Homo sapiens: one gene and its partners. The protein of the gene in region 1 purifies or fractionates together with the protein of each later gene. This does not show direct contact. Each region holds a gene or a part of one and is shown on either strand. Other genes may lie near its edges. The genes, in order: SBSPON, ZNF703 and ZNF609.

Region 1 (10,200 bases):
CTCATCCTGCTTCATGGTCACCTGTGTCCCTGTTACTGCCTTCCACCCCCACTAGACTTCCTGTTCGCAGATCAGGCGCCTTTGAGGCGCGGCACACGAATCCCTCATGTTTGCATAGCAGAGAGATCTTACAGGCATCATTGGTTCAGCCTTCATAGCAACCCCGTGAAGGAGTGTATTCATTTTCTACGGCTGCTGCTACAGATTACCCCAAATTTAGTGGCTTAAAACAACACAGATTAGGCCGGGTGTGCTGGCTCATGCCTGTAATCCCAGCACTTTGGGAGGTCGAGGTGAGTGGATCACCTGAGGTCAGGAGTTCGAGACCAGACTGACCAACATGGTGAAACCCCATCTCTACTAAAAATAAAATATTAGCTGGGTGTGGTGGCATATACCTGTAATCTTACCTACTTGGGAGGCTGAGGCAGGAGAATTGCTTGAACCTGGGAGGTGGAGGTTGCAGTGAGCCAAGATTGTGCCATTGCACTCCAGTCTGGGCAACAAGAGCGAAACTCTGTCTCAAAAAAACAAAACAAAAAACCCCACAGATTTATGATCTTACATTTCTGAAGATCAGAATCTGACATGGGTTTCCCCAGGCAAAAATGAAGGTGTCAGCTGGGCTACAGGCCTTTCTGGAGGCTCTAGGGGAGACTCTTCTTCCTTGCCTTTTCCACCTTCCAGAGGCTGCCCACATCCTTTCCTCACTGCCGCCGTCCTCCATCCTCATAGCTAGCAACAATGCATTTCTCGGTGCCTTTCTTCCGTTGCCACATCTTTTTTTTTTTCTTTTCATATAAGATGGAGTCTTGCCCTGTTGCCCAGGCTGGAGTGCAGTGGTGTGATCATGGCTCACTGCAACCTCTGCCTCCCAGGTTCAAGCGATTCTCCTGCCACAGCCTCCCGAGTAGCTGGGATTACAGGCGCGCACCAACACACCCGGCTAATTTTTGTATTTTTAGTAGAGATGGGGTTTCGCCCTGCTGGCCAAGTTCTGACCAGCTCTTTCTTAGGATCCTGTGATTACATTGGGTCCACCTGGAAAACCCAGGCTATGCTTCCTATTTTAAGGTCAGCTGAGCAGCAACCTTAATTCCACCTGTAACCTTAATTCTTTGTTCCCATGTAATATAACATATTCACAGATTCTGGGGATCAGGACATGGACATTCTTTGGGGGCCACAATTCTGCCTCCACAGAGAGGTAGGACAGAGTCATTATCCTTGGTTTACACCTGAGGACACTGGAGTTCTGAGAGGTGACAGCACGTGTGAAGGACTACTGGAACTAAAACCTGGATCTCCCGGCTCTAAGTCTTATGGGATTTTCCCACCTCAATAGTGTTTTGCTATTAACTGTCATCATTACAGCTAAAATTGTAATTACAGATTCTTGTAACTAAGTAGAAATATAAATGCCCGTGAAGCTAGTGAAGGAAACATGATCCCTGAAGCTCTCTTATTAATGACTGAGTAGCTATTTCCTTTTTCCTGTTTCATTTAATGCATACCATAATTATATTTTTATTATAAAAACAAATTTAAAAAGCCACATTACTGAATGTGTTGCACATCATTGACAATTGTTTATATATATGTGTTTTCCTCCTAAAAGGAGATCAATGTGCATTATTATAAACCATATGCCTCTAGGTAGATATTATTTGTCAATTTTTCATTTTACTCTCTTCTGTACTATAGACCAGTGATCCCAGGCCTGCTTTTGTGACACCCCATTGTGTCAGAGGGCGTTATGAAATTCTCAAAGCAAATTTAATTTACTTTCATGTTCAAAGTAAGTATATGCAATGCCCTGCTTTTAGAAGTGGAAGTTGTTGTAAAACCAAACAATGGGAGGCTGATAGAACGCCAGAAACATTGGCAAATCGCCTGTGAACAAAGAATATATTGCACTTGAATACTGTTGCCAGGAAGGGGAACTTAGATTTATTGGGGGCCTTTGTCCCAGGGATGCTGGGTTACGTGCTTCCGCACATTAGCAGAAGTGTGGCGGGAGGCAAAAATAATTTCTAAGTTATTTCATTACTTAAGTAATGAAAAGTGAATTTGGGGGGGGTGTATTAAAAAGTGATGCTGGTTCTGGGACCTCCAGGCAGTCTGGCTCATGTGAGAGGGACCTTGGCAATAGAATGTGCCACCACCAAGCCCAAGGCCTGGGGACAGCCCTGGGTACCTGGCTTGCTCTTAGGATGCACCCTAATCCCAAGAGCATGAAACTGAGCTTGATAGAAAGTCCTGAAAAACAGATGGGCCAAGCTTGGTGGCAGATGCCTGTAATCCTAGCACTTTGGGAAGCCAAGGCAGAAGGATTGCTTGGGCCCCAGAAGACCAGCCTGGAAAACAGAGTGAGACCCCATCTCTACCACAAACAGAAAATGGAAAACAAAAATGCAAACCCCCAAGCCCTCAGAAGATAGCTTCTGTGCTGGGTCCTTGCTTAGTCACTTACTACTTATTTTCCCTTCATTTAACCTCGGTGAGCCTCAGTTTTCTGATGAATGAAATTGGTATAACACCCTTTTACAAAGTTTTTGTTGAAGGTAACACATGATGTGAAATTACTTTGTAAATGAGCAGGCTATACACATACCAGGGGCCATGGTACCCAGAGGGTGACCCTGCACCCACTGTGTGCCCTCCCTGGCCTCCTTACCTCTCTCATGGACTGAGGTGACTCCAGATACAAGGGGCTAAAAGTTTCTCTTTTCCTTTCTTAAATCTGACTTCACATAGAGCATAATGATTCGTGACAGAAAGGGAAAATAAAGCCAAATTTAAATAATTCATGGGAAAGATGCTGCAAACAGTACTGGAACTTTGTCATCTATATTATTACAGAGGCAGTGGAGTGCCGCCCTGAGGAGTTTGATTTCGGAGACGTTGCCTGGCTGTGCTATATTTAGATGTGAGCCTTAAACACATTTCTTAACCTCTCTGTGCCATAATTTTCTTGTCTGTGAAATGGGGAAATAATAGGATCTATCTCAAGAGGCTTGTGAGAATTAAATAAATTAATACCTGAAAAGTGACTTAGAGTTGTCCCTGGAAACTTAGAAGTGCGTATTTTTATTATTATAGAACCTTTTCCAAGAATTTTGTATCAGAAACTAGAATCATATATTTATGTTTTCCTTCCACTTCATAGCCTCTTTTTCTGAGCTATACATTAAGTACCTTGCCTTTGAACTTTTGTAATGATATATGCAGTACAAATTTGATTACATAAATATCTGAGCTAAAGAATCCCCAAAAAATTACAGGTGGACTTGTGTAATGCTGCATGGATTTAGCAGTAAATTGATTCTTCACTTAGTGAAGAAACACATATGTGTGTCTGAAGAACAGAAATGAAAATGTATGGGAGAATTAAATCCTTTAGATGTTTGTGTTTCTGATAATTAGGTCTCAGAGAAACAGAGAGGGATCCTGATATACATGCACTCTCTTGTTCTTTCTAATTCTGTCTGTAGATCTTAGAAATGCAAACGCTACAGTCACATTTAGAAAACAATTAAACATGTCAGTGCAGCAAAAAAGAGCCACACAGGAACAAGTGGCTACCCGGTATTAGGCAGCTGCTCTTGTCTGTTTTTTTTTGTTTTTGTTTTTGTTTTTTTTTTTTGAGATGGTCTTACTCTGTTGCCCAGGCTGCAGTGCAGTGGTGTGATCTCGGCTCACTGCAGCCCCCACCTCCTGGGTTCAAGTGATTTTCCCAGCCTCCCGAACAGATGGGTCTATGGCCGAATGCCACAAAATCTGGCTCATTTTTGTAAAATTTTTAGTAGAGACAGGGTTTCACCATGTTGGCCAGGCTGGTCTTGATCTCCTGGCCTCAAGTGAGCTGCCTGCCTTGGGCTTCCAAAGTGCTGGGATTACAGGCATGAGCCACTGTGCCTGGCCTTTTGTCTTAAATTCCCTAGTAATACAAAAATAACTCCTCATTAAGAAAAGCTCAAAAAGAGTTAAGGTTTGTCATCTTGGGATAGTAAAGAGACAGGTAAAATCAACATGTAGGCTTCAAGCATCTATTTTGCAACCAGTATCCTCACATTGTTGAGTTCATGTTGATGATGACTTTGGCGTCTCATAAGTTGATATCAGCTTGTATCTACCCTTCCTGGAATCGCGCAGTTTCTGAAACAGAGGTAGAGGACTGCTGAGCCATCTTGGCTGCAAGGCTCAGTATAGGAACGGAAGACTGCAGGGAAGTAGGGCCTGTGTGTCTTGGCTGCAAGCCCATGACCTCATTCATTCACTCACTGGCCCATTTATTCCTTGCACAAATATTTATTGAGTGTGTAAATGTGTGAAGCTATAGTGATGGACAAGGCAAAACCCTGCCTTCCTCAAGATGACAACAGAGTCAGTCCAGGAGACTGACACCTATAGGTGTTATTATAGCAACAAATGCCTCCCTAGACTTAGTGATGAGGTAGAGAGGAGACACACAAACACAATAGAATTAAAGTGAGCAGAGACAGGAGGAAGGATTCTTGGTGCCATTTTTTTTTCTCTGACCCAGAGCATCAGAGTTGGGGGAGGGTTGTGGGGAGGAAGAGGGAAAAGAAGGGGACCACTGAAGACTTTCTTTCCCTGAGCTGGTGTGGGGACAATGCTGTGCAGGCTGGCACTGGGCAGCCACATTGATACTATGTGGTGGGCAGAGCTTCCATGAACTTTTCCTGCTGTGGTTACCTGAGGCTTGGGGAAGACTCACCTTCTTTCCTCCTCTGCTTCTTCTGCCTTTTTCTTTTTGAGACGGAGTTTCACTCTTTTGCTCAGGCTGGAGTGCAGGGGCGCGATGTCGGCTCACTGAAACCTCCGCCTCCCGGGTTCAAGTGATTCTCCTGCCTCAGCCTCCTGAGTAGCTGGGATTACAGGCACTTGCCACCACGCCCGGCTAATTTTTGTATTTTTAGTAGAGACAGGGTTTTGCCATGTTGGCCAGGCTGATTTTGAACTCCTGACCTCAGATGATCCACCCACCATGGCCTCCCACACTGCTGGGATTACAGGCATGAGCCAACACGCCAGCTGCTTTTTTCCTTTCTCATTTTTTTCTCTGTTTGTCTGTTTTCTCTCCTTCCATCCGCTTTTACTCTCTTTTGTCTTCTCTCTATCCTTCTTTGTTTCCTTTCTATTCTTTTATTATCTTATTTCTCCCTTTCTTTCTCTATTTCTCTTCCTTTCATTTTTGAAACCTCCTCTTCTCTTCATGCTCTCTATTATCTCACTTTTTCCCTTGTTCCCCTTCTGACCCCCATCTTCCTTTCCTTCTGGTTTTTCCTCCTGGCCCCTCTCCTTCCTCTCACACAGTTTTATTACTGCAGACAAATGTGCTTGTCAAAGGCCTGCAGGCCCCCTCCCTACCGATCTGTGTGCACACACATCTTTATTGAATTTGTAACTTGGCCTCATTTCACACCTTGATGGTGTGCCGTAGCCCTGTGAGTTTAGGAATGGAGACCCTTAGACAGGTACAAAACCAAAATTGGGAAACGATGGTCTGAGTACTTTGGCTCCCTGAATTCAACAGAAATCTCCCTTTTCCAGTTCCTGCCTTTATAACTACCTCTGCATTCAACAAGGAGAGAACACGACAAGCTACGTCTCCACACTGGTCTACACACACAGAGGATGCTGGGTAATTTCGTGTTTTTTTTTTTTTTTAATCATGTTTTTCAATTGTATAGTCAAGTCAATGCAAGAGGGTCAACTTGGTTTATGTTTTCTTCTTCTTTCTACTTGCTCTTTGACTTTGGCTAAAATATGGACTCTTCATCAGAGTTGGGAAAATACTTGTCCCCTCCTGGTTTTTGTGGAGCTATAAAGATATATCTACCTCTTAGGTCCAATCTTCAACAAGAAACAAACTATATACAAATGAGATTATTTTGTGAGCTTATTTTATCAATCATACTAAGGATGCTTCTCTTACAGTCTTTATGGGACGTTAGACTTCAGCACCACCTCTGTTTGGTGAATTTGAAAGTGACACACACTTCAACTCAGAGGTTTCTTATGGAAACCTATTGGTACAGGCTGGAAGTCACCTTCACGCTCAGCTGAAATCCATTCTTCTGCTGTCAGATAAGGGATACCAGACAGCTGCACGCTCAGGTCCCCACACTGCCCTCACTAGCATAAGACCTTGAACAACTTGTTCCACCTCAGTTTTTTCTTCCTAAAAAATGAGACTGTTAATAACCTACCACATGAGGTTGGTATGAGCATTTAATGAGAAAATAACATTGAAGAGATGCCTGAGGCTGGGCCTGGTTGCTCATACCTGTAACCTCAGTGCCTTGGGAGGCTGGAGCAGGAGGATTGCTTGAGCCCAGGGGTTTGAGACCAGCCAGGGCAACATAGTGAGAACCCCATCTCTATGAAAAATAAATACTTTTTTAAAAAGAGCTGTCTGGGCTTAGCTCTCTGAAATTGATTGAAGCCACATTGTAGGATTTCTTACCTCAATAACTAAAGATACTTGTTACCTTTAGTTACTAATTAGCTGTACCTATCATTCTTAAAGATCTTTAAAGCAGATTCTCCAAACACTTCCCATTTATAACATATTGCAACTCATAATTGTATGGGTAAGAAATTAGCCCATGGAACTGAAAATGCCACAAGTTTCTGTTACAATACTCGGAGATTTTACTATGTCTTGTTTCCCTGAAGAATTGGAAAACTGCACTGAAGTACAAATTTCTAAAATATTCCTCATGTCTGGATGTTCCCCTGGGCTTTCAGTGTCCAGTCACATATAATGTTAGAGTTTTCCGCAGCTCAGTTTAAGGTGACACTAACTTCTGTCAGAAAAGTGTGTCTCAGCCTCCCACTTCTGCTTTCACCTGCGATGCCCAATGTAACTGTGATAATTGACTTCAAGTCAAAACTCATCATCATTACTCCAGACCATACAAGTGAGGTGGGTGGAGAGGGTGGGGAAGATCCCGGGTACTTTCGTGGAGCAGAACAGCAGAGGTGCTGACCTAGGTGTTAAGGGCTAGCCCTCCTGGGCTCACATTTTTAGGGTTCTCAGGCTCAAGCAAGTGCTTGTTCAATTTATAGAATTCCTTTAGATCAGCAAAATTATCAAGGACTGGGTTTCTACAAAAACCTGGACTTCTGTGCACAATTTAGTGATCTGATTAGACAGGATACAGGATATCCAAACTTCTGCACATTTATATTGCCCAGAGAGCTCAATGATGGACTGAAAAAGGGCACAAAGGTTCTTTGTGATTATCAGTAATATTTCACCATGCTTCAGGGAATGAGAAACCTTAAAGGTGATTGACACGTAACTTGTGAAGATGTACTCACTACCTGCTCCAGTCGGCCAAATGCCCTTGGAGGTGACAGGCTTTCTAAGACTTTCTACAGCTTTAGGCCACTGCTCATTACAGCAAGTGTCATTGTTACTTCTTTTGCTGTAGATACTGTATGGAGTTTAAGACAGAGTCCTTGACTCCTCACTGTGCTCTGGAAAACTGGCCCTTGACTAGATGGATGCAGTATCTCCGAGAGGGATACACGGTGTGTGTGGATTGTCAGCCTCCAGCTATGAACTCTGTGAGCCTTCGTTGTTCTGGAGATGGCCTGGACTCCGATGGGTAAGAATGGAAATTAACTGAAGTACTTTTCTTGTCACTCATTCTGAGAAATCTGTCCTCTCCATGTCCAGACAGCTGACCAGTATGTAACATATCAAGGGATGACTGGGAAGTCAAAACAGTAGGTGAGGAGGACCATCCTCTGGCACTGCCTGGGGCCAGGGCTCCAGTTCCCACTATGGAACCCACAGGCCCTATACACCAGCAGTTAATATGGGTCCATTTGGACATTGGGGGCTGGGAGTGGTGGCTCATGCCTGTAATCCCAGCACTTTGGGAGGCCGAGGTGGGTAGACTGCTTGAGCTCAGGAGTTGGGACCAGCCTGGACAACATGGTAAAACCCCATGTCTACAAAAAATAAAAAATTAGCCTGGCATGGTGGCGCATGCCTGTAGTCTCAGCTACTGGGGAGGATCACTTGAGTCCAGGAGGCGGAGGTTGCAGTGATCCAAGATTGCACCACTGCACTCTGGCATGGGTGATAGAGCCAGACTCTGTCTCCAGAAGAAAAAAAAAAAGGATATTGGAGTTTAGATCACATTCCCAAATGATCACCAAAAACCTGATCACTCCAAAGTGGTGTTCTGAAGATCACTAGAATCAGAATCTCGTGAGATGGAGATGTAAAATGTGCAGATTCCTGAACCTCATTTCCGACTAACTGAATCACTCTTTGGAGGTGGATTTTTAAAAATGTCTTAGGTCAGGATCCAGAAAACCTTTTCTGTAAAGGGCCAGAGAGTAGATATTTTTGACTTTGCAGGCTGTGTGGTCTCTGTGACAACCCCTCAACTCTGACTTTGTAGCAGGAAAACAGTCACAGACACTATGCAAACCTTGGATTTGTTCTAACAAAACTTTATTTATGGACCCTAAAATTTGAATTTCGTATAATTTTCATGTGTCACAAAATATCATTATTGTTTTGATTTTAACACTTTAAAACATAAAAATTATTCTTAACTCACAGTCCAGACACAAAGAAGGGGTAGGCCGGCTTTGGCCTCTACGGGGTCCTAGTTTGGGGACCCCTGCCCAGGTAATTCATACCCACGATGAAGTTTCAGAACTGTTGCTCAATGGGGCTTCTTCATAAAACCCTGACTGAGACAGTGGTGGGGTCACCTCTGCGGTATAATAATCTTATATAAATCTGTAGATTTCTCTGAAATAATTGACTCCAAAAACATTTTACAGTCATGCACCTGTATCCCAGTTCTGCACTTATTTAGTGTTTAAATTTGATAACACTATACAAAACTAAAAGAAGAGTCAACTTCGTGCTGGGCAACTATTGGGCAAAGACTAATTTAGGTCACACATAGATTATGGTTTTCAGTATGTCAGGTGTAACTGGTAGAAATACAGATTAAAAGGTAAAATATGGGCCTTTCCAGTCAATTATTATTCCTGTAGAATGTTTTCATATTTAATAACTAGAATTTATGTTTATTAGTCACTAGTGCCTCATGGCCTCCATTGAGCACACCATAAGAACAATAAAGTGGGTAAGGAATTTATATCAAATAGAAAATATTTACATAATATTTTTCTGAATACCTCATCCATGTTTTGGTTTTAAATGAATTTATAATTTAATTTGTACCCATATAGTATTTAAACCCTGGCTGAGGTAGCAGTGACTTTAAAAATAATAATTTTAATAATCTGGCTTTGTTCTTTTCAGCTCTCTCATTGTTTTTTCATTATGAAATCAGAGTTGGAAAGCAGTAAAAGAGATCATTTAGTTCAGACCTCCCAGTTTAAATACACATAGAACAGTCAGCCATTTTCCTTTATGCAGCACTTGTGCTCAGATAGAACGGGAAAAGCAAATACAGTAACCCCAAGTTACTCTGTCAACATGAGGGTGTCCTAAAGTAGCAATGAATTAAAACTTGCTTTGACAGAAACTAAACAAGGGAAACTCTGTTTGTGATCATTAAAAAAAAAATTGGGGAACCGGGTGCAGTGGGTCATGTTTCTAATCCCAGCGTGAGCCAGGAGGCCGAGGCAGGAGGATCCCTTGCACCCAGGAGTTTGAGATCAGCTTGGCAACACAGTTAAACTCCATCCCTACAAATAATTTTTCTTTATAAAAATTAGCCAGACGTGGTGGCATGCACCTGTGGACCCAGCCTCCCAAGACCATAGGCGTGTGCCACCATGTCTGGCTAATTAGAAAAAAAAAAAAACTATATATATATATATATAGTAGAGACGGGGTTTCACTATATTGCTCAGGCTGTGATCAGTTTTTTTTAACTCCGAGTTTTAATTCTGTAAATTAGACCTTTCTTCGGTATGCTTTTAGTGTAACTAACACTTTCGAAATATCGTTTCAGAAATCAGACTCTCCATTGGCAAGCAATTGGTAATCCTCGGTGTCAAGGAACTTGGAAAAAAGTTCGGCGAGTAGACCAGTGTTCTTGTCCAGCTGTTCACAGTTTTATTTTTATATAGATGGTGATATAAATATTTCCAAATGCATTTGTAAACATTCTAAATATTCTCAAGTCATGTTCAATGTTTCCTAAACCTTCAATTTTGGCCAAA
Region 2 (10,417 bases), about 35 Mb from region 1:
GGCGGGGGCTGCTGTGATCCGAGAGCTCCCTGACGCCCCAACCTTCCCCGAACGCAGCTAACGAGCTCGTGACATCCGCTGACATCGCCACCGGTCTGCTTTGGAGGGATCTAGCGAGAGTCACCTACCCCACCCCTACTGCCAGGGGAGGGGTCGTTGCCCCCACGAGGGAGAGAAAAACAAGGACTATAATGCACTTCGCAAAATGTAAGGGGCCGGCTTCACGCCAGCGGGGCCTTCTGGGACTTTGAATTCAACCAGGTGAGCGCTCCAGGTGCCCCGACAGGCGCACTGTAGCCACTGGGTGTTAGGGGCGGGAGTCTGGAAGGTGACGGTAGACGGCCACTTGGGCCCTTCTGGGGGCGAGCCTACTGGTGGGGTCAGGGCTCTCCGTGCTCAGAGCAAGGTAGAGGAGCAAGGCCCTACTTTTGGGGGGCAGGGTCCAGACCAAGGACCCTATGCGCGGAGGGTGGCGGGGGAGGAGTCCCGGAGCAGTGTACCAGGTCAATAGAGCTCCAGGGCCCCTGCCACCCAGGTGGCCCCCTCCACCCCCAAAATGAGTTACAAAAAAAACCTCCTCTCTGTTACTTGTACAACAAAGGAAAAAACAAAACAAAACAAAACAAAAAACAAAAACAGAACCGCAAATGGAAGGAAACAAGAGGGAATGAAGGGGGAAGAGGGAAAAAGAGAAGGCGGAAACGTAGTTTTAAGTTAAGACTCATGCAAGAAACTCCCCAGGAAGGGAAAACAAAACGTCTAGAAGAACCCAAAGACCCCAACTCTCCCTCAAACCAAACCAATCAAAACCAAAAAAAGAGGAAAAGGAATAAAAAATGTAAAACTTATATCTAAGAAAAAATAACAGAAAGGAACAGGGGCGGGGATCATGTCGTTATTTGTGGGATTAATATTATTATTTGGGAGAACACAGACTTTTTGCATACCATTGACTCATGTGGGCCGTTAATGCACTTATATTCCCAGCTTGTAAGCTAACATTATAGTAAATAAATACACAGTCCGGTGGGGAAGGGCTGGGTGGGGAATCCCGGCAGGGTCAAGCAGTAGTGGAGGTTGCAGCGGCGACGGCAGGTGGGGAGGGAGGAGGAGGGAGAGGGAGGAGGGTGAGGGGGCTGGGGTGGAGGAAGAGCTGTAGTTACTGGTATCCCAGCGCCGAGGCTGAAGCTAGTCTCTGTCCATACAGCGCGTATGGCGAATAGTAGGGTCCGGCTGTGGGGAGGGACGGCACGGCCAGGCCCCCCGCTGTGGATAAGTGGCTCTTGCCATAGGGGTGGTACCGGCTTAGGCCCAAAGTGTGTGGATTCCGCAAGGACAGCGACCCGGGGCTGCCGGGGGCGGCGGGCGGGGGGAGGTGCAGATGGCAGGAGGCGGCGGCGGCGGCGGCGGCGGCGGCGCTGCCCAGGCCCGAGGCCCCGGGGTAGGCGGCCAGAAGTTTCTCGGCTCCCGGCAGGGCCGTGTGGGTCCGTAGGTGGCTGAGCAGCTCCTCCGAGGTGGCGAAGCGCTTGTCGCACGGCCCACTGGCTGCCACCCAGTTGCAGCTGTGCGGCAGCGGTTCGTTCTGCAGCATGAAGCCGTAGGTGTAGAGCGGGTGGCCGGGGAGCGCGGCCTGGGCGGCGCTGGACGAGAGCGCGGCGGGCTGCAGCGGGTGCCCGGGGTACACCAGCGGGTAGCCCCCCGCCTTCAGGCTGGGCCCGGCAGGGTCGTGCGCGCTGCAGGTGGAGCAGCTGGAGCCGCCGAGGTGCGAGGCGCCGTGGTAACCTCCCAAGCAATAGGGGTCGCGGCATAATCCCTGCAGGAAGGAGGGCGGGGAGGCCCCGGTGAGCGGGCTGGAGCTGGGGGGCTTGCCCGGCGGCAGGCCCAGGCCCCCAGACAGCTGGCCTCCCACGAGGCCGGACTTGCTAGGATCCAGGCCAGGCACGAACTGAGACGGGTAGCCGGCGTAGGCGCCCACGATGGAGCCGTGGTAGCCAATGCTGGAGGGCGGCAGCGGGAACACCGAGTGGCCCGGCTTGTAGGGAGACACCGGCGCCACGTGGCCGGCCCCCACCAGCGCCGAGGGCGGCTCGGACTTGCGCCCGGAGGCCCCGGACTCGGCGCCACCGTGCGCCCCGGGCTCCCCACCGCCGCCGCGGCTCACGGCTGCCGGCTCCGGGCTGGGCTTGGGCTCCTGGTCTTTCTTGTCCAGCTCCCCGCCGCCAACCCCGCCGCCGTTCTTGCAGTCAGAGTGGTGCGGGGAGCCGCCGCGGGAGCCGCCGGGCGACGACGAGGACGAGGATGCGGAGACCGGCGCTCCATGCGGGGGAAAGGGCGGGCAGGCGGCGCTGGGGACCCTGAAGCCCGCCTTGTCTCCCGGGGACGAGGAGGACGAGGAGGAGGTGGAAGACACCGAGGAGGAGCCGCTGTCTTTGCGGGAGTCGCCGCCGCCGGAGCCCTTGGAGTAGGGCTTGAAGCTGGACTTGTCCTCGGCCGGTGAGTCCCCCAGCTGCTTCAGGGCCGCGGCTGCGGAGGCGGCGCCCGGGGCTGAGCGGCCGGGGTCCTTCTCCGCTCCCAGCCCGTTGGCCGCCGCCGCCACCGAGTTGAGTTTGGAGGAGGGCGGCGGGTCCGGCTTGCCGATCTGCGAGCAGGTCTGAGCCAGCAGCGCCAAGGGGCTCTTCTTGGCGTCCAGCTGTGGGAGACAGAAGCAGGGGGAGGGAGAAGGAGTGAGACTCAGAGGCCTGCGGGGCGAGCGGGGGCGCCCGGGGAGCTGGGCGGCGGCGCCACGGGGCGGGGCGGGCCTGGGGAGAGGGTCTGCGAGCGAGGGCCGGGCCGGGCGCGGCAGCTGGCGGAACTGCGCCCACACTGCCGCTGGGTCCCGGGGTGCGCCGCAGGCCCTGCGGAAGGAGTTCACCCAGGACCCCTGCGGGAGAAGGTGACGTCTCTGGAGTCGGGGCTGTGACTCGCCACTTCCCTCTAATGTCCCCCTCCTCCAGGCCCAGGAAAAAACTTATTCCTTTAGTTTGGGGGAACTTCGCTTGGGACGGGTTTCTGGCGATGGCGCCGCGGGGTAGGAGAGGGGAGCGCGGATTCTAAAGGAGGGGCTGCAGTTGGCGCTCTCTCCGTAGCCCCTCCCTCCCGGGGAGGGCACCCAGGGAAGAGGCAGGAAGAAAGATCCGGGATCGGGAGCGCCAGGGCGCCGTGCGCCCTCACCGGATGGGACAGAGGCGAAGTGGGACCCGGGCAGCCAGGGCTTCAAAGAAAACAGCCCGGCGTGGGGGGCGGGGAAGACCCAGCAGAGACCAACTCCTGGCTGGAAACTGGGGATCAGAGGAAAAGTAAAGGACCCAGAGGGGACTCCAGGAGCAAATCCAATCCGAGAGAAAACACGGAGCTCCGAAGGGCGAGCGTGGAAGGAGACCCTTCCACGGGGAAGCCTGGGGAAGCCCTGGTGGGCTCTGATCCCTCGGTTTTCTTCCCCTCCTCACTCAGCCCGCCAGCGTGACCAGACTTGGGTGTCGCACCGAGCCCCGGGGCGCTGGGAGCTGGGTCAGGGTCCCGGTCGCGGTGGGAGGAATGGGGCCGGCGCCCGGGGGCAGCGGCCGGGGACTGACCTCAATGGGGCTGACGGGAGTGGAGGACAGCGGCTGCAGGTACTCCGGGTGCAGGAGGTGACCGGTGTGAGCGCTCAGCATCTTCAGGACCCTGATCGGGAGCCGGTTCGCCTGGCGCAGGGGGTCCGCCGGTGGCAAGAGGGACACCGCTGCCGGCACCGCCGGCCTCTTCCCGCCGCCGCCGCTGCCGCTGCCGCTGCTTTCGGGTGTCCTTGGGTTAGATCCAGCGGGCGAATCGCTCATTTGGAGGAGGCAGCGCCGCTGGGGGGGCGGGGAGGGCGGGGGAGCACCGGGGAGGCGAGCTCCCGGGGCGGGTGGGCTCGCTCCGCAGCGTCGATCGCGGTGCAGCGGGAGCTGCGCCTCCTCGCCGCCTCCCCTCCTCCACCGACGCCTCCGCCGCCGCCGCCACCGCCGCTGGCCCCGGCTAGCAACACAAAAACCTTCGCCTTCCTCGAGCCGCACGTCAAATAGCCGCGATCGGCAGCCACACTTCAAAGGGATCGCCGCGCCCGCCCAATCGCAGCTCTCGCCGGGACCCCGGGGCGGGGAGAGCGGCGGGCTGAGGCCGGCTCCATCGGTGGGCGGGGAGAGCCTTAAAGGGGCCGCGCCGCGCGCCGCCGCTGCCTCGGTCTCGGCCGCTCCCGGGATTCCTCCCCTCCCCCCGACTGGGCCTTCCTCGCCCTGGGGTCCCCCGCCTGGGACGGGACTTCTCCGGGACCCTGAGCTCTGCGCCCCGTCCTCCTTTCCGGCCGCTCTCTCTCCTCTCTCCCTTCTCACCACTGGGTGGGTGGGGGGTGATGCTGGCGGGGGCTGTAACCCCGCCCGCCGTGTGTGTCCGAGGTGGGGTGGGGTGGGGTGGGGTGGGGTGGGAGGGATCGCACGGCGCGGGCTCTGGGACGCTGGAGTTCAAGCCTCTCCCAGAGGCCGCCTGGGGGCAGGCCTCGCCTCGGGAGCCCGGGTCCTTCTCCAGAGCTGCTCCGGCTCTCCTCGGCCCCGCTCTCCTTCCCCTACTTGGCCTCCCCTTGGTGTGTTCACTTGGAAGCGCCCGAGCCTCGGAGGCACCCACTGTTCTCGGGACGCGGCGTAGGCAGCTCCAACTACTTTGAGCCCGTCTTGTCTGAAGCCTGCAAGTTTGTCTCCCTTCTGGAGTGACATGGTCGGCGACCAAGCGCGGGACCCCAGGCTGTGCGCGCTGTGCCTGCGCCCTGCGTTAGAGGCTCGGTGTCTGGTGTGTTACAGGCTTCTTACCGTGTCCTGCTGAGGGGCGTGAAGTTCCTCACTGTACCGCGCCCAGCTGCTACGAGGAGAGACCGAGATCACGGGCGAGGCGGGTGTCCCTGGAGGGGGATCTCTCTCTAAGCGCTGCTCGGCAACACAACCCCTCCGCCCCCCCATCCTTCTCACTCCGGGGGAAAAAGCACTTGCTTTCCCCAGGCAAATTTCGGGATAAAAACTTTTAATTAAAAATAACAATACCCTTCCCGACTCCCTGCGCCTTTCTGATACAGTGTGCATTGCTAGCTTCGCCCTGGGCAGAGATTTTACGTAGTCATAGTCCTGACATCCAAGTTCCGGATCCGCCGCTTTTCCGGAGGCGAAGTTGGTCCTTTGGGTGCCGAACTCTGGGGAGCCCACTTCTCCGTGCGCTCGGCGGCCAGTGGAGGCGCGCTGGTGTCACTGCCTGGCTCCCAGCACCACTTTTCCAGTCCCGATCCATCACTCCGGTTGTCAGGGCTGTCACTCGGGGCGTATTGCTCTAGGATGGCAGGTTCCCGACTCTGCCGCGCTGACCGACGCCTTGAGATGACCTGAGAACCCAAGATGGGGAGAGGTGATTTCAAAGGAGCTCTTCAAACAGAAAGAAATAGCTATCACGAATCTGTATCTTGCCCAGTAGTAGAAGACAGCAGACCCCACTTCCAGGCAGTATCAGTCATACCCAAAACTAAGTGCACTCCCTGGATCCATACTGTATTTTGGGCAGCACTTATAGAATGCTTAGAAATTACACAAGCTGTAATTACATGTTCCCCAATTTTAATCTTGGTAAAATCATGTTACGCCGAATGGAAAGGGGTACCCTGACTGTGAGATGGATCCCACATTGCAGCAAGAGGGGTGCGGGAATGAAAAGGGAGGGAGTGATCTCATTTATTTCATCGTGGCAGGCTTCTCATGCCGACTTCTGTGCGGGCAGCCATTGCCATCACTGCAAACACCACCTGTAAAAGTCCACTGCAGGGCTGTGTCCACCCACAAGCCATTTTGCCTTCGGGAGACTGCTGTGTAGAGCGGGAAGGGCAGAAGGAAGCCAGGGTGCAGAGAGGCTGGCCTTTGCAGGAACGCAGAGGAGGAGGAGCTGGGCAGAGGGGAGACCTAGGAGGCTATGAAAGATGAAAGTCTCCCTGATTATTGTAACCAGCCCAGCTGTGAGAGGGAGCCAAGGGATCCTTCTAGGGCCTGAGCAGATGTGTGTTAGAAATGATTAATGGGAAATAAGTCAGGAGGAAAAGGGGAGGGGAGAGGGAAGAGGTATTTAGGAATTTGGAAAACAGAGCAGGAGGCAGCTGAAAGGAGAGAGGGGAGAAGAGAGAGGACAATAGAATATTCACTCTCTGTTTGGAGAGGAAAAGAGAAGGAAAAAGGTAGTGAATGAAGGAAAGGAAGGGAGAGAAGAGGAGGTAAGGACAGACTGGCAGGATGTGATGGGGGATTTGCCTAGGTAATACTATACTGTCCTGTTAAAAACACCTCACTCCCTGAGCTCCCAGTGGTAATTACTGACGGGCACACAGATTGGCCTGCTCCCACCTCCTGGGAAGTGGTAGGACACACCTCTGAAAGCATGCAAGGCGGGAGGGACACACTTTGAGCTGCTGGTCAGGGCAGCAGGGTTTCTTTGGCTGGATCCATCCAAACGTCTTAGGAGGGAAAATGAAAAACCATGCATAGCCAGGCCAGAGGCCTAATTAAAACACTGCTAGATGATTATTACAATTGGGATTCACCATTCACTTAGCTAAAATGCTAACCTATACAGAGCACTAAATGGGGCCCTCGGGGCCTGAAGGCAAGTGTAGTTTTCAGAGGAATGGCTTGTCACCTGGGAGGGAATGTGGCTCTGTATTCAGATGGGCTGTGTTTATGGAGGGCGATGTGGTTGGAAGGCCCGAGTAAGACATCCCTGTTCAGGACATATGACACAGGTTCTCCCTCTGCAAAAAAGTGGCAGATGCGTGGCTCAGGGGCCTTCCACTGTCCAGGTCCTCCTCAGATGGCCCTGGGAATGAGCGGCCACCATTAAAATGGGACAGGGGAGAGGGCTGCCTGAGAGTGCCCCCATGACACTGTGGTGAAGAATGACAGTTCGGTATGTCAGGCGCTTAATAAACATCAGGTGTTGCTATCATTCTCAGTTCAAGCTGAAGAGAGTCAGGCCCAGAACCAGGCTGCTGTGGGGACCCCGGGCAAGTGAACCTCCCTAAGCTTTGGTTTCCTCCAGGGTAAAATGGAAGCGTGGCCACTTCAGAGTTGGGAGACCAGAAGCAGACAATGCATGTCACCTGTTTCATGCTTGGCACAAAGAAAGTTGAAGGTAAATGATGGCTGTAACCGATTGCATCATTTGTGTCTGAGGAGCAATTGCTCAGGGGAGCAGCCACATCAGCACCAGATTTAGCCCTGGGAACCCAAGCAGAAGAGCCCAGGTTGTCTCTGAATTCTACAGAAATGAAAGTAACCCTTCCCCAGCCTCCAGTTCAATGTGTCTTTTTTTTTTTTTGAGACGGAGTCTTGCTGTCTTGCCCAGGCTGGAGTGCAGTGGCATGATCTCGGCTCACTGCAACCTCTGCCTCTCGGGTTCAAGCGATTCTCCTGCCTCAGCCTCCCGAGTAGCTGGGATTACAGGCGTGTGCTATGATGCCTAGCTAATTTTTGTATTTTTAGTAGAGATGGGGTTTCTCCATGTTGGCCAGGCTGGTCTTGAACTCCTGACCTCAAGTGATCTGCCGGCCTCAGCCTCCGAAAGTGCTGGAATTACAGGCATGAGCCACCGTGCCCAGCCCGCAATGTGTCTTAAAAAAAAAAAAAAATAGCCCATCCCTCCCTAGAAGCCATCAAGAAAATCCTTTAAGAAACTGTGAATATGTATAGATTATTTTTTCACTACTTCAATTTACATAAAATTCACCACCCAGGAAAAAATGCTCGAGTCAGGTTAAGACCTAGAGGGGGTAGATTTGTTGTGTGGGGTTAATGTGTAGTTTTCAGTCCTTGCCGAGGCAGAATTGCCTGAATGATCGCCTCTCTCTCCTCTCTCTGCATAACACTCAAACCCTAATGGCAACAACATGAAATAATATCTCACTGGGTAACTATTTACATTTTTTTTTTTTTTACAAGCTGTAAGAACTCTGAAAAGTCTGCCTCATAGAGAACTTGGTTTTCCTCCCTGGCGCTTAATATCTTTCAGCGGCTGGCAATTACTGCTTTGGCCGGGAGCCCTGATTTAGCACACTGCACTCAGGGCACTTGAAGGCGCTTCCTCTGTCTGCCCCATCCCCCGGCTTCAGACACAGCCTGGGGCACGAGAGGGGCACCAGGGAACAGTGGGAGCAAGCAGGCTAAGACCAGGACAGCCAGCCCTGCAGGAAGCCCGCCCCACCGATGACTCAAGAGGCTCCCTCTTCTACATTCTCACAGTTGGTATTATGTTCTATTATTACACCTATCACATGGCATCTGCCACTATTTGCTTCCTTGTCTGATCTCCCACTGGACTGTGAATGCTTCTTGTTTTCCTCATCCTCTTTGTGTACTTATTGCCTAACAGAGCGGTTCACCATCACCACAGTAGCCAACGTTGAGTGCCAAACGCTGTTCTAAGCACTTTGCGTGCATTCTCTCATTTAATCCTTGCAGAAACCTTAGGAGATGGGTCCTATGGTTACTTCCATTTCACAGGCACAGAAAGGTTAAGTAACTTGCCCAAGGCCCAAGCTGGTAGGAGGTGAGCCTGGAGTGTCAAATCCAGGTCCAGGCAGTCTCAGTGCAGTTAGTACCCAGTGAATGTTTCTGATGAACGAAGAATTTTACAAAAATAGGGCTATTTATTTATATCACACCTCACTGTATTCCCAAAAGGTTTAACACGGATGATTGTATTTTTCAAAATGTTGATTGTATAAACATGTTAAAGTACCTTTTCCCAAATGCATTGTTTTTTTGAGACAGAGTCTTGCTCTGTTGCCCAGGCTGGAGTGCAGTGACGTGATCTTGGCTCACTGCAACCTCCGCCTCCTGGGTGCAAGCGATTCTCCTCCAGTCTCAGCCTCCCAAGTAGCTGGGATTACAGGCGCCCACCATCATGCCCAGCTAATTTTTGTATTTTTAGTAGAGACAGGGTTTCACCACGTTGGCCAGGCTGGTCTTGAACTCTTGACCTCAGGTGATCCTCCTGCCTCAGCCTTCCAAAGTGCTGGGATTACAGGCGTGAGCCACTGCGCCTGGCCCCAAATGCATCTTTGGGTCCAGCATCTCACAGCAATTTTCTTTCCTTTGGGCAGGTGTTATTATCCTTGTTTGACAGATGAGGAAATGGGCTCGGAGAGCTTAAGGGAGCGTCCAAAGTCACACACAGCAAAAGGCTGGCAGAATGGGCACAGAATGAGTCCTTCTCGGTCCCTTCCCTGGTTCTTGGTCTATTGCCTTCTGCCACTGTTGTTGTGTGGACAGAGAGCTAACTCCTTTTGATAAAAGAAGGAAGAATGAACTCCTTTTCCTCACCTAAGAATTTCCTCTAGAGATGTGGTGGGGAGGAAGGGACAAAAGGAAGTGCGGACCAAAGCTTGTCTCCAAGCCTGTGCGTTTGATCCCGGTCCTTGAGCAGCTGCTTTGAAGAGGGTGGTTTGGTTTATCTCCTATCAGCTCCTGGGGAGCTAGGCCGGGGAGATGGAGTAGGTGTGATTTTGAAGTTCTCCTTCCTTAGCCTGACCTGCCCTGATACATCAACGCTAGCCCTGGGCATTCACCCCTGACTGCTTTGTTCCTTTGGACCTTCAAGTTTCTTAGAGATTCCTCTTTTAAGTCGCTAATGTTGCTGGGAGGCGTCAAACCCTTTTTATCAGCCAATTGTGGTTAGCAGAGTGAGTGTTCCTCCCAGGATAATAATAACATCTATTGAACACTTATCCTGCTAGACACTGTATTGAGCACCTTGCCTGTAATAACTCATTTACTTCTCACAGCAAACCATGGTGAGCACTATTATTATGCCTGTTTTATAGGTAAGGTACTGTTTTGTAGGTGAGGCCCAGAGAGGTTAAGCAACTTGCCTGAGTTACACTGCTAGAAAGTGGTAGATCCAGGATTCAAGTCCAGATAGTTGGTTCCTGAGCCACTCCACTCTACAGAGTGCGGGACTGAAGGAGAGGGAGGCTTAAAGTCAGAGAGAGCAGGAGGAGAAACTGAAGACAAATTGATCATTTTCCAGAGGGCTGGTCTTCTCCATCAGATTTTCCTTTCATCTTGAGAAATGAGAAATAGGGGAGGGAGAAAACTGAGGCAGAGAAGGAAGTGAGGGGAGCTTCCATTTATTCCATTAATTGATTAGATTGAATTGATTAACTCAATTAATCATGCATTCAGTTACTCTTTATGGACCACTTGGTAGGTGAAGGCTCAAGGCGATTTCATGGTGGGTAAAGACCAGAGGAAGCCAGCAAGCCCCGTGCCTGTCTCTCGATGATGCACATTCAGCAGCTGCACGTTCCTATCCTCTCTGCATCTGCGTGCTCCTTTTGCAGATT
Region 3 (7,000 bases), on another chromosome or scaffold:
TAGCCTTTGGTTTTGGTAAAGGTCTTTCTGAGGCAATTAGTCTGTCTATGGTGCCTCCCTTATCCTTTTATTTCAGTGAGTTTCTTTAAATGATGGCCTGCCACTGAGGTGTTGGGCCTTTGATAGGAGGGAACAGGTTGTTCTGACCTTTATATATTTTTTGATAACAGAACTGTCTTCAGGCCTTACTGGAGGTGTTGTCTGTCTTTAGACTATTTCCAACTCTGTGTCCTAGGAATATTTGAGTGAAGCCTCAGCTAAACTGAGTCCAAAGCTTTTTGCTCTTGGGCTCTTGGCATTTATTTCTGAATGCTGTCAGGTGACAGTGAAGGCAGAAGCCTCAGATTAAATTTGTCCTGATTAGATTTAGTGGCTTCAGAGTTGGGCCCTTGCCACAAGGAATCTCATGTGAGTCTTCTGATTGTGACCATCATTCAAAGAGTGCTTTGGATTCCCCCCCAACTACCCGTCCCAGCTTCTTGGTAGAAAAAAATTTCCTTGTGATAGAAGTCTAGAAAGTTGGACAGATTAGTGCTTATTTTGTGAGGATATGGAGGCATAATTTTGGCTCCTGGTAGCAATTATGTTGCAATTAGCATATAGCAACTAAATGACTGGAACACGATAATTTGTTGAGGGGTTTACTGATTGCTCTGTCAAGTGGAAGTGCCACTCCTTATTTATTTTATTTATTTGACTCAGAACACTATTGCCTGAGCTTAGCCATGGAGGCTAAGTATAGCAATGATATGTGTTCTCCAGAAGTTCCCACTCTGCTTCCTCTTTGTAGTTACTTCTTTTCCAGGTACCTTAGTACTTGTACTGCCCTTTTCTCCTACTCTGAAGGTAGCTAAGCAATTGTTATTTCCCTCATGGAAAACTGGTCATGGATGGGAATACTGCCAGGCAGATGGGATTAGCCTGAGATGAGGCAGCCTTATATTGTGTGGGAAGTTTTCTTTTCAGTCTCTTAATTCTCTCTTCTACTTGATTTTTCAAAATCAGTTTCCTTTAAAGAAAACAAACAAAAACCCCACAAAATGCAAAATATCGTAATGTATTAAATATGCCTTCATGATACCTCTGTTATAAAAGTTGTCTGTGACAGACAAAATGAAGATAGGTGATGTTGATTGGCAGGTTCTGGGTCCACTAAGTGTCAGTGAAGGACTCTTTTCGCTAGGGAACAGGTAATTCACCAAAGCACCTGCCTAGCTGGGCATGTGGAATTGGCAGCAGCTGTGTAGCTGAAGAGGGATTACTGAGCAGGTGGTTGAAGAATCACATGCCACAGTGACAAGAAAATACTTGGTCTTCCGTGGGTTAGATTCAGTTTGTATGTGTGAAATTGCACTTTGTTTCACATTTCTTAATGCTTGTTGATTTGTTAGTAAGATGGTAATAGAATAGAGAAAGAGATTCTTCTGTAACTGTGGTTTTTTAGATCACTCAGTAGCATGCCCTAGACATGGCCCTACACGGCTCTATTGTATTTATGGGAGTTCTGGCTTTATGCTTTGTGCATGGGAGGGAAATAGTGGTAATTCAGTGTTTCTAGTACTTGTTTATTAAAGGGAAATGGGAAGGAGAAAATTTCTTGCTTTCAGTATGGTGAAAAAGATTTAGCCTACTGGGTGGATACCTAATAGGTTTTATGCAAATGATGTAATTGACTTTTTGTGGAAGTCTACCTGACATGCCTTACTCAAGTGATTTTGCATGTGTTTTTATATTATGTTTTTATATTATGAATATATTTCCCCACATGAAGTTTGCATCTCTTCGGTTGTTTATTTGTTTGTTTGTTTGTTTTTCTTTTTTGAGACGGAGTTTCGCTCCTGTGGCCCAGGCTGGAGTGTAATGGTGCGATCTCGGCTCACTGCAACCTCTGCCTCCCAGGTTCAAGCAATTGCTTGCGTCAGCCTCCTGAATGGCTGGGTCTACAGGCGCCCACCACCATGCCCAGCTAATTTTAGTATTTTTAGTAGAGATGGGGTTTCATTATGTTGGCCAGGCTGCTGTAGAGCTCCTGACCTCAGGTGATCCACCCACCTCGGCCTCCCAAAGTGCTGGGATTACAGGTGTGAGCCATCATGCCCTGCCAGTTGTTTTTTTCAATTTTTAGTTTCTCCCAGCACCTTTGTAACTCTTTTCCCTGACATTGACATTAACATCACTTGTTAGAACCAAGTCATCACCAGAAGAAATGATGTTAAGGAACATCACCACTAAATATTTATCTTAAAAACGGATATAGGCCGGGCGCAGTGGCTCATGCCTGTAATCCCAGCACTTTGGGAGGCTGAGGCGGGCAGATCACCTGAGGTCAGGAGTTTGAGACCAGCCTGGCTGACATGGTGAAACTCCATCTCTACTAATAATACAAAAATTAGCCAGGCTTGGTGGTGCACTCCTGTAATTCCAGCTACTCGGGAGGCTGAGGCAGGAGAATCGCTTGAACCCGGGAGGTGGAGGTTGCAGTGAGCTGAGATTGCGCCATCGCACTCCAGCCTGGTCAACAAGAATGAAACCCTGTCTCAAAAAAAAAAAAAAAAAAAAAAAGTTAGCGGGGGGTATAGCATTTCCTATAACTTGGGAAAAGACTATTTGAGGTTTTCTGAAAATTCAGATTTTTTAATAGATTATCATCTTCTGTTAATATGATTTTCTCTTTCATATGTTTGTGCCACTATAATAGGAATGCCATAGAGCCTAAAACTTGTAAGCAAGTAACTTTGTGTTTATTTTCTGACCTTTTTAGTGCCTTCCATTCATTTTCTATATTAGGCCAACAGGTTGTGTGCCCCTTCTCTTGAAACACATACACACACGACCTAATGGAATTCACAGGGTACTAATTAACGGATGATTGAAGAGAAATGAGCCATATGAACTGTTTTAAAGTTCAGAAATCTCTTTCCCACAGCCCAAGTGGAGTGAAGGCTCTTTGAGGGAAAGTGAGGCCAGACTATGACTCAGGTCAGGGCCTATGGAGCACTGCATAGATGGGGACATTTGCAGTGATCTACCTAAAGCTAAGCTAGCTTTAAGTGGAAGTCTAGCGACAGCAGTTAATTGTTTAGTATTCACTTCTAGGAAAGAATGTCAAGTTCTTGATTTCCTCATACGAAGCTATGGCAGTTTTTTATGTTTGTTTTATTAAAACTGTTCACAAACCACTTATGCTTTCCTAGCACTCTCAGTAGTTTGCTTCCTTTTACCTTTCCCCCACCCCCATCTCTTATCCCACTTCCCTACCCTGAAGACTTCTCTAGCAGCTTGGAAACACTCTAATTACTGTAGCTATTATAGTCACAACCCAGATCCTCCACCTCCTTCTCTCTCACCCCTTTCTTTCTTCCCCCCTCCCCTTGCTCTAGCAGCAGGAGTTGAACTGCAGTCTCATGAGCACAGTCAGATCTATGAATGAGCTTTATATCTTGTCAAGGCAGAACTCCAGATCCAACAGGGCTAATTTTTCATGGTTCTCTTGCTGTTTGTTCTTGGATCAGAGTCCCAGAAATAAGAGATGGCAAATACCTGTCAGGTCATATCTAGTCCATCACTCAGGGGCAAACCTAGGATTTTTCTCTTGTCTCTGTGAGAAATTTTTCCTTCTTTCTTTTGCAGGTGAGAGCTGTCTGATGCCAGACAAGCTCTGAAACTGCCTTCTTTTTATTGTGTTCTCTGGTCATTAGTGTCTGGCCAACTTCTTTGGGGTTTTTTTCTTTTTTAATTCCATTTTTCAGGAATACTTCCTCCCAGCAATATCTCTACCCCTTCTTCAGTCCTTTCTTCTTGATTGTGGGCATCACCTTTGTGGATTCCTTTTGTACCATCAGTTATCTATGCCAGAAGTATCACTTTTCTGACCTTTGCCACAAGTGTCACTGTGGCCTGCTTTTAAGGAGGTACATTTGATGAAAACACAGGACATAAATTCTAGCAGGTGGTAATTAATAAAATACTTTAGAAAACATGTGCCTTAGCCCGGTGCGGTGGCTTACGCCTCTAATCTAAGCACTTTGGGAGGCCGAGACGGGCGGATCATGAGGTCAAGAGATCGAGACCATCCTGGCCAACATGGTGAAATCCTGTCTCTACTAAAAATACAAAAATTAGCTGGGCATGGTGGCGCACGTCTGTAGTCCCAGCTACTCGGGAGGCTGAGGAAGGATGATTGCTTGAATCTGAGAGATGGAGGTTGCAGTGAGTGGAGATCGTGCCACTGCATTCCAGTCTGGCAACAGAGCAAGGCTCTGTCAAAAAGAAAAAAGAAAATATGTGCCTTAAGTAACCCCTGTACTATATGAACAAATGTTGCTTCTTCTGTTCTAACACTTCTCTTTATGTGGATGAAATTTTATTTTTCTGTGTCTTTGTTACAGTTAAGATATTGTCTAAGAGTGTTATGTTTTCTTTACTAGTATGCTTTTTTTTTTTTTCTTTTTTGAGGCAGGGCCTTGCTCTGTCACCAGGCTGGAGCATAGTGACACAATCACGATCACAGCTCACTGCAGGCTCAACCTCCTGAGCTCAAGCAATTCTCCTACCTCAGCCTCCCAAGCAGTTGGAAGTACAGGCAGGCGCCACCACACCCAGCTAATTTTTTTTTCCTCCCTCCCTCCCCTTCCTCTCCTTCCTCTCTTTCCTTCCTTCCTTCCTCCTTTCCTTTCCTTTCCTTTCTTTTCTTTTCTTTTCCTTCCTTCCTTCCTTCATTTTCTCCTCTCTCCTCCTCCTTCTGCTTCTCCTTCCTTAAGACAGGGTCTCACTCTGTTGCCTAGGCTGGAGTGCAATGGTGCAATCACAGCTCATTCCAGCCTCAATGCCACCACACCTGGCTAATTTTTTTGTGTGTTTTTTTTTGTTTCGCTGCATTGCCCAGGCTTGTCTTGAACTCCTGGGCTCAAGCCATCCTCCCACCTTGGCCTCCCAAAGTGCTGGGATTATAGGCATGAGCCACTGTGACCAGCCCAATTTTTAAATTGTTTTTGTAGAGATGGAGTCTCACTATGTTGTGTGCCACTGCACTCCAGTCTGGTTGCCCAGGCTGGTCTCAAATTCCTGGACTCAAGCAGTCCTCCTTCCATGGTTTCCCAAAGTGCTGGGACTACAGACATGAGCCACAATGCCTGGCTAGTATAGCTTTTCAAAGAATAGAGGGGAAAAAATCATAGAATTGAGAGTCATAAAACCCAGATTCTGATCATTACTGTGCCTCTAATTAGCTGTTTGTCCTTGTGCAAGTCATGCCCCTGTTTTCATGTGCCTCATCTGTGAAATGAACACATTAGACAGGATGATCACTGCGGTTCCATTTAGCTGTAGAATATCATGATACCAAGATTGAGAGTCAGGTTGACACTTGTAGTCCTAGCACTTTGGGAGGCTGAGGCAGGAGGATCACTTGAGCCCAGGAGTTGGAGACCAGCCTGGGCAACAGAGAGGCCTCATATCTTAAAAAAAAAAAAAAAAAAAACAACACAATTCAGCCTGGCCAACATGGTGAAACCTTGTCTCTACTAAAAGTACAAAATTAGCCGTGTGTGGTGGCACATGCCTGTAATCCCAGCTACTTGGGAGGCTGAGGCAGGAGAATCGCTTAAACTTGGGAGGTAGAAGTTGCAGTGAGCCGAGATCAAGCCATTGCACTCCAGCCTGGGCAACAAGAGATAAATTCCATTTCAATAAATACGTAAATAATTAGCCAGGTGGTGTGCACTGTGGTCCCAGCTCTTCAGGAAGCAGAGATGGGAGGATCGCTTGAGCCCAGGAGGTCGAGGCTGCAGTGAGCTGTGATCTCACCACTGCAATTCAGCCTTCACTCGCACAGAGCAAGACCCTATTTCCAAAAAAAAAAAAAAAAAAAAAAAAAGATTATGGTGGAAGAACAGGACAAAAATATTTAACATAAGTGAGCATCTTTTTTTTTTTTATTGCTGGTCAAAAATATAGCCGGTATTCAGAAGGGCTAATGAGTGCAATTTCAGTTCCCTGGGGCTTGACTCTCATACTCTTTGATTTGTTTGGAAGGCTGTACTTTTATTAGGCCATCTTTTTTTGGAGGGTTTTGTAGCCTCATTCTGCAGGCTCACCAACTTGCCGCATATATCTTTTTCTAGTGTGCTTAAAACATAGGAGTGGAAATCAGAAAGCTGCAAAAAAGGCTGGCCTGGCTTGGTGGCTCACGCCTGTAATCCTAGCACTTTGGGAGGCCGAGGCGGGTGGATCAGCTTGAGGTCAGGAGTTGAGAAAGCTGCAGAAAAGGAACCTTAGCTTGTGAGAAGGAAGTTGTACCTGGAAGGATTTGCCATCTATCAATAAGAAGTAACTTTGTAAATTCAGTCAAGGATCTAATAATCTATTATATCTGAAATCTGGGAGCTAAATTGGACTGATTATGGAGGTTAGTTGGATATTTTTCCACTTTTGACTAGTCAGTAGAAATTCCACTTTGAATTAACTTCTTGGGACTGAGTACAAGTTGAGTTGCCCACAGTGTTTTGTTCGGAAAATAAAATTATGTTGTTATTTATTTATTTTTGACAGGGTCTTACCCAGCCTTGACCTAGTGGGTTCACCTCAGCCTTCCAAGTAGCTGGGACTACAAAAGTGTGCCACCATGCTTGGTTAATTTTTGTAATTTTTTTTGTAGAGATGATGGTTTGCCATGTTGCTCAGGCTAGTCTTGAGCTCCTAGGCTCAAGCCATCCTCCTGCTTCAGCCTCCCAAAGTGGTGGGATTACAGGTTTGAGCCACTGCACCCAGCCAATTACGTTATTTTTAATGCTGAAAATGCACGTTGATGACATTTGCCGAAGTATGACGAACAAGGGGGTATCTCTGAAATACCCTCCTAAAAGAGACGAGAAATGAAAAGCTGGTTGGTAAGTGTTTCAGGAACTTTCAGATTGAGAGTAATGTTAGGAAGTATTTGCTTTCAAGCAGTTTTTTTTTTCTTTTTGAGATGAAGTCGCTCTGTTGCCCAGGCTGGAGTGCG

What was found.
Region 2: the proteins of SBSPON (region 1) and ZNF703 purify together in Homo sapiens (affinity purification with mass spectrometry; 2 studies listed by BioGRID and IntAct, with this or other methods). This does not show direct contact.
Region 3: the proteins of SBSPON (region 1) and ZNF609 purify together in Homo sapiens (affinity purification with mass spectrometry; 2 studies listed by BioGRID and IntAct, with this or other methods). This does not show direct contact.

The regions. Positions count from the first base shown.
Region 1 is NC_000008.11:73,067,248-73,077,447, reverse strand, and holds part of SBSPON (somatomedin-B and thrombospondin type-1 domain-containing protein precursor), read left to right. Parts: intron 1-1,704; coding exon of another isoform or gene 1,705-1,798; intron 1,799-2,862; coding exon of another isoform or gene 2,863-2,927; exon of another isoform or gene 2,928-2,929; intron 2,930-5,577; coding exon 5,578-5,668; intron 5,669-7,466; coding exon 7,467-7,643; intron 7,644-9,989; coding exon 9,990-10,107; 3' UTR 10,108-10,200.
Region 2 is NC_000008.11:37,689,417-37,699,833, reverse strand, and holds the start of ZNF703 (zinc finger protein 703), read right to left. Parts: upstream 4,053-10,417; 5' UTR 3,855-4,052; coding exon 3,612-3,854; intron 2,690-3,611; coding exon 1,160-2,689; 3' UTR 1-1,159. UniProt on the Homo sapiens protein: Transcriptional corepressor which does not bind directly to DNA and may regulate transcription through recruitment of histone deacetylases to gene promoters. Regulates cell adhesion, migration and proliferation.
Region 3 is NC_000015.10:64,463,578-64,470,577, forward strand, and holds part of ZNF609 (zinc finger protein 609), read left to right. Parts: intron 1-7,000. UniProt on the Homo sapiens protein: Transcription factor, which activates RAG1, and possibly RAG2, transcription. Through the regulation of RAG1/2 expression, may regulate thymocyte maturation.